Homo sapiens: one gene and its partner. The protein of the gene in region 2 purifies or fractionates together with the protein of the main gene of each other region. This does not show direct contact. Each region holds a gene or a part of one and is shown on either strand. Other genes may lie near its edges.

Region 1 (3,500 bases), on a different chromosome or scaffold from region 2:
TGTTTTAGACATGAAGTCCTTGCCCATGCCTGTGTCCTGAATGGTATTGCCTAGGTTTTCTTCTAGGGTTTTTATGCTTTTAGGTCTAACATTTAAGTATTTAATCCATCTTGAATTAATTTTTCTACAAGGTATAAGGAAGGGATCCAGTTTCAGCTTTCTACATATGGCTAGCCAGTTTTCCCAGCACCATTTATTAAATAGGGAATCCTTTCCCCATTGCTTGTTTTTCTCAGGTTTGTCAAAGATCAGATAGTTGTAGATATGTGGCATTATTTCTGAGGGCTCTGTCCTGTTCCATTGATCTATATCTCTGTTTTGGTACCAGTACCGTGCTGTTTTGGTTACTGTAGCCTTGTAGTATAGTTTGAAGTCAGGTAGCGTGATGCCTCCAGCTTTGTTCTTTTGGCTTAGGATTGGCTTGGTGATGCGGGTTCTTTTTTGGTTCCATATGAACTTTAAAGTAGTTTTTTCCAATTCCGTGAAGAAAGTCATTGGTAGCTTGATGGGGATGGCATTGAATCTATAAATTACCTTGGGCAGTATGGCCATTTTCATGATATTGATTCTTCCTATGCATGAGCATGGAATGTTCTTCCATTTGTTTGTATCCTCTTTTATTTCATTGAGCAGTGGTTTGTAGTTCTCCTTGAAGAGGTCCTTCACTTCCCTTGTAAGTTGGATTCCTAGGTATTTTATTCTCTTTGAAGCAATTGTGAATGGGAGTTCACTCATGATTTGGCTCTCTGTTTGTCTGTTATTGGTGTATAAGAATGCTTGTGATTTTTGCACATTGATTTTGTATCCTGAGACTTTGCTGAAGTTGCTTATCAGCTTAAGGAGATTTTGGGCTGAGACAGTGGGGTTTTCTACATATACAATCATGTCATCTGCAAACAGGGACAATTTGACTTTCTCTTTTCCTAATTGAATACCCTTTATTTCCTTCTCCTGCCTAATTGCCCTGGCCAGAACTTCCAACACTATGTTGAATAGGAGTGGTGAGAGAGGGCATCCCTGTCTTGTGCCAGTTTTCAAAGGGAATGCTTCCAGTTTTTGTCCATTCAGTATGATATTGGCTGTGGGTTTGTCATAGATAGCTCTTATTATTTTGAGATACATCCCATCAATACCTAATTTATTGAGAGTTTTTAGCATGAAGCATTGTTGAATTTTGTCAAAGGCCTTTTCTGCATCTATTGAAATAATCATGTGGTTTTTGTCTTTGGTTCTGTTTATATGCTGGATTACATTTATTGATTTGCGTATATTGAACCAGCCTCACATCCCAGGGATGAAGCCCACTTGATCATGGTGGATAAGCTTTTTGATGTGCTGCTGGATTCAGTTTGCCAGTATTTTATTGAGGATTTTTGCATCAATGTTCATCAAGGATATTGGTCTAAAATTCTCTTTTTTGGTTGTGTCTCTGCCAGGCTTTGGTATCAGGATGATGCTGGCCTCATAAAATGAGTTAGAGAGGAGTCCCTCTTTTCCTATTGATTGGAATAGTTTCAGAAGGAATGGTACCAGCTCTTCTTTGTACCTCGGTAGAATTCGGCTGTGAATCCATCTGGTCCTGGACTTTTTTTGGTTGGTAAGCTATTGATTATTGCCACAACTTCAGAGCCTGTTATTGGTCTATTCAGAGATTCAACTTCTTCCTGGTTTAGTCTTGGGAGGGTGTATGTGTTGAGGAATTTATCCATTTCTTCTAGATTTTCTAGTTTATTTGCGTAGAGGTGTTTGTAGTATTCTCTGATGGTAGTTTGTATTTCTGTGGGATCGGTGGTGATATCCCCTTTATCATTTTTTATTGCATCTATTTGATTCTTCTCTCTTTTCTAAATTTTTTTTTTTTTAATTAGACAGAGTCTTGCTCTGTCACCCAGGCTGGAGTGCAGTGGTGCAATCTCAGCTCACTGCAACCTCTGCCTCCCAGGTTCAAGCAGTTCTGTGCCTCAGCCTCCCGAGTAGCTGGGATTACAACTGTCTGCCACCACACTCAGCTAATTTTTGTATTTTTAGTAGGGATGGGGTTTCACCATATTGGCCAGGCTGGCCTTGAACTCCTGAGCTCCACCCGCCTCGGGCTCCCAAAGTGCTGGGATTACAGGTGTGAGCCACCATGCCCAGCCTTCTTGATGGAACTTACACTGTAGTGGGGCACAATTGCAAGAGGTTTGGCCAATTTGATTTGGAGGGGTAGAGGTGAGGAGAGGAATATTGTCAAGAATGAACCCAAGCAAGAGTCAGAGGATGAGAAATAAACAAACAAACAAGTAAATAAAAAAGGATGAACCCAAGGTTTCTAGTTTGAGCAAATGGGTGAACAGGGTTACCATTAACTGGAGATTAAATTAAAAGGCATGTTTAAGTCAGAAAATGAGCTCAGTTTCTGAGTCACTGTGCTTGGCCGACAACTTATTTATTTATTTATTTATTTATTTATTGAGACAAAGTCTCACTGTGTCACCCAAGCTGGAGAGCAGTGGTGTCATTTCTGCTCACTGCAACCTTTGCCTCCTGGGTTCAAGCAATTCTCCTGCCTCAGCCTCCCGAATAGCTGGGATTACAGGCACATGCAACCACACCTGGCTAATTTTTTTTAGTACAGACAGGGTTTCACCATGTTGGCCAAGCTGGTCTCCAACTCCTGACCTCAAGTGATCTGCTCACCTAAGCCTACCAAAGTGCTGGGATTACAGATGTGAGCCACTGTGCCCAACCAGGCTGTCAACTTTTAAGATTTCTTTTTTGAGATGGAGTCTTGCTCTGTCGCCCAGGCTGGAGTGCAATGGCACTATCTCAGCTCACTGCAACCTCCACCTCCCAGGTTCAAGTGATTCTCATGCCTCAGCCTCCTAAGTAGCTGGGATTACAGGTGTGCACTACCACACCCGGCTAATTTTTGTATTTTTTAGCAGAGATGGGGTTTCACCATGTTGACCAGACTGATCTCTAACTCCTGGCCTCAAGAGATCCGCCTGCCTTGCACCCCCAAAGTGCTGGAATTACAGGCGTGAGCCACAGTGCCCAGCCAACTTTTAAGAAGATTTTAAACGTAATACTTAACTATATGCTACAAGTAAATGTTGAAACCTAATTCTTACAGTCTTTGGAACAAGCAACAAAATTGTTTTGAGCTTCATAAAATATGAGCCTAAATTTTTATCATTTTTCACTTGTACAGGAAACATAAACTTAGGTATAATGTAACTTTATTGCATTTAATTAATGAAGGTTGCAACCTTATACTTTAAAAATTACACTATAGGTGACCGGGCGCGGTGGCTCATGCCTGTAATCCCAGCACTTTCAGAGGCCAAGGCGGGCGGATCAAGAGGTCAGGAGATCGAGACCATCCTGGCTAACACGGCGAAACCCCATCTCTACTAAAAATACAAAAAAATTAGCCAATCATGGTGGCGGGTGCCTGTAGTCCCAGCTACTCGGGAGGCTGAGGCAGGAGAATGGTGTGAATCTGGGAGGCGGAGTTT
Region 2 (3,500 bases):
CTGTGTCTTCCACCAGAACCTTCCTGCTCCCAGGAAAGGCCTGGCCTGGCTTAATCAAATCTAATAAAAAAAATCAAAATAACAACCAGTAGGCAACCTGCTAGGCTGATCCAACTGGACATGCTGGTGGCTGAGCAGGTCCTGGAGGCCCTGTCTTGCCAGGTGTTAACTCCTTGTATGCTGGGTCCCAGTGGAGGAACCGGGGCCAGGAGAAAAGCTAGGGCAGGCGGTGGGGGCCCTGACAGAGCTCTGGCAGCCTGATTTACCAACTGGCCCAGAAGCATCTCAGTGTTTGACACGGGCATACTGGTGTGCATAGGCTGATATCAGCTGTTGGTCTGGCAGAGTCCATGCCCAAAAAACATTTGTGGACCTGAGCTGAGGGCCAGAATGGATGTGCTTGGTTTCTGACCCATGACATAGTAGCATACAGGGCATGTGGCTTTGCCAGCTGTGTTCCTATGGGCAAGGAACCATGGAGATCTGAGGTCAGAGGTCATCAATCCAGAGGTTCCCCACTGACAGCAATGAGAGACTGTGAGCTATTTCTATTATTTCAAAAATATGAAAGAACACTGTCTTACCTATTTTAAGAATCAGAAAAAAATCGATTGCTACTAAATGGTTAATTACTAGCCCTGATAAACTAGCTTCTGCCCTTCTTGCAGGAATCTAGCTTTGCAGTAATTGCACTGTACTGTTACCCTTTAGTTGTCTGCTTGGCCAAATGGACCAGAATCTTTATGAAAGTGGAAGCTGAGACTGGTCACAATTGTATTCCCAGAACCTAATTCAGCGTTGGGCACAGAGAGACTCTCAATACATATGTGCTGGATGTTTAAAAAGAAGAGTTGATGGCTACTTCAGAGTAAGTACAATTTAATTTGATCAGAAATATCTTTTGAGACTTATAAAATAAAATTGGTCATTGGGACCTGCTGATGAAACCATCATTTTTATTTTTTTAAATTTTTATTTATTTATTTATTTATTTTGTGATGGAGCCTCGCTCTGTCGCCCAAGCTGGAGTATAGTGGTGCAATCTCGGCTCACTACAACCTCCGCCTCCTGGGCTCAAGTGCTTCTCCTGCTTCAGCCTCCCGAGTAGCTGGGATTACAGGCATGCACCACCAAGCCCAGGTAATTTTTATACTTTTAGTAGAGACGGGGTTTCACCATGTTGGCCAGGCTGGTCTCGAACTTCTGACCTCAAGTGATCCACCCGTCTTGACCTCCCAAAGTGCTGGAATTGCAGGTGTGAGCCACTGCGCCCAACCAAAACCATTGATTTTAGAGATGGAAAAACTGAGGAACAGGGAAGGGCAGGCTCTTGTTCTAATATGATGTGCCGAGTGAAGATTTAGGGGTCACGTGACTGCACTGGACTTGCAGGTCCACCTCTCACTTGCTGTGTGACTGGACAAAACAAGTTGCCTGACCTCTCCGAACCCTAGATTTTTTAAGTGCAAAGTGGGGAGAACTGCACATCTGAGACCAGAAGTGGGTGTGAGGATTGGCCAGGATGACGTGTAGGTGGTGCCAGGTGATGGCTGTTCCCTCTACACCCCTCATGGCTCCTGGTCCAATGCCTTCCACTGTACCACATAGAGCTCTTTGTTAGTGGGATACAACCAGTCCTGAGGCCACATATTTCAACCCTTCTGTTTCAAGGCCCCCAGCCACAATGCAACAGAACAGAAAGGTACATACATACGCCACGGGGTCATTACTCCGTGTCCCCACGATGCTGAACTTCTTCACATATGAGTTTTCTTTCAGGGCTTCTGCATATGCCTTGAGGGTGGGGATGGGGATATTCTGCACAAAGAAAGGCAACAGAGAGAGTGACCAGAAGCCTCCTCTGGGACAGGCTGAGGCAGGTGGATTAGCCTGGCTACTCTCTGATTCCTGGCAAGTCTCTGGCCAAAAAGCTGAATGGGCAAAAGGTTTAGGCTTTGTCCCGGACGACTGAAATCTGGGGAGAACTTTCTGGTAAACAGATTTAGAAAATCCTCCCTGAAAATTTCAGATAAGACCTGTAACCTCTTTCTTTGTGCACTTGGGGGCCAGAGAAGAGGCAAAAATTAAGGCGTGTAGTATTGTGCAAAGAGCTAGGACTAGGGGTGTGAGAGGGGCTGGAACCTGGCCTTGGTCCCAATGATCGGCAATGTTCCTGACTTGCTAGGTGTCTCTGTGGAAGCCTCCTGCCCTCTCTGGCCCTGTTTCTGGAAAACAGGTAAGGGGGTTGCATATGATACTCTTTAAGAGACATCTACCCCAGGGGGTCTCTGCTCCAGCGGCACATCAGAGACTCCTGGGGAACTTTTACAAAATGGTGATGCTTGGGCCGGCCCAGAACAATAGAATCAGAATCTCTAGGGTCAGGCCTGGGCGTTGGTATATATTTTTTAATCTTCTCAGGTGAAAACCACTGATCTGGTCCAACAGGCTCACAGTGCAGAGGAGAAACTGAGGCCCAGAGGAGGCTGGGGCCTCACAGGGAGATTCCATCCCTCATGTGGCCCTGAGGCAGCATTCACTGCCAGTGGGCAGCATTCTGAATTGTGCCAATGTCTCCTACTGGGCACATGAAAGAAAACATGGCTGTGTTTTTACCAATCTCTCAGAGCGTCACTTTAGCTCCCATGGGAGCAGAGCATGGGGAGGCCAGGTGGGGGTGAACACTAGGGTGCAGGTTTCCAATCTGATGGTGCCGTGGGGCTGGCAGCTGCTTAAAATAAAGTGGAGAAGGAAAGAAAGTGGAGCAGGGGCATGGGGGGCTGGCTTCTAGTCTTACCCCCACCCCCCTCCCAGAACTAATCCACTGGTCTCTGGGCTCAGCAGGTGGGTAGAAAGCTGCATTTGTCTCTGAATTCTTCCTGCGGCGGCCTGTTCAGGGTGAGACTGCCTGTCCACCTGTCCCTCCCCTGCCCCGGGATCACATAAGGAAATGTGCACAGAGAAAAGGGCAGACAGCTTGGGATATCGCTTTGGACATTTTGGCCAACAGCTCCCTTCTGTGGCTGTAAAACAAGGCTGAATATGAACGTGATATAGCAGCAGCGATGGCACAGGGGAGGGGCCTGCCCAGGGCCTGTGTTACCCCCGAGCCTAGTGGGCACCGGACTTTTCCAGCCTTGAGATCCCATGCAGCAGCGTGTGTCTGACTCATGATTTTATCTCGGAGAATCTCTCAGTGTTTTGAATAACGTGGCAGGTTTCCAGATCAAAGCTGGGTTGGCCCGTGCTAAACATCTGGGCCTGATATCATCCTCAGAAAGAAACCAGGACTGCCAGATGCACTTGTTTACACTGCCCACCCCTCTTAAAGGCTCCCATTTGCAAAGGTTTTGTCCCTATTCCCAATGCAGAAACACCCAGAATCCAAACAGGACCCTGTTTACTCTGCACAACCAACCCTGGACCGTTTGCATTTGGGTGACATGGTTCCCCCTCCCCCAGCCACACACAGGTAAAGTGAAATAAATGGACCTTACCCG

Evidence for each region. Proteins that work in one complex are often made in the same cells at the same time.
Region 1: the proteins of TMOD1 (region 2) and NEXN purify together in Homo sapiens (co-immunoprecipitation; one large-scale study listed by IntAct). This does not show direct contact.

Annotation. Positions count from the first base shown.
Region 1 is NC_000001.11:77,895,124-77,898,623, reverse strand, and holds part of NEXN (nexilin), read right to left. Parts: intron 1-3,500. UniProt on the Homo sapiens protein: Involved in regulating cell migration through association with the actin cytoskeleton. Has an essential role in the maintenance of Z line and sarcomere integrity.
Region 2 is NC_000009.12:97,564,166-97,567,665, reverse strand, and holds part of TMOD1 (tropomodulin-1), read right to left. Parts: coding exon 3,498-3,500; intron 1,819-3,497; coding exon 1,711-1,818; intron 1-1,710. UniProt on the Homo sapiens protein: Blocks the elongation and depolymerization of the actin filaments at the pointed end. The Tmod/TM complex contributes to the formation of the short actin protofilament, which in turn defines the geometry of the membrane skeleton.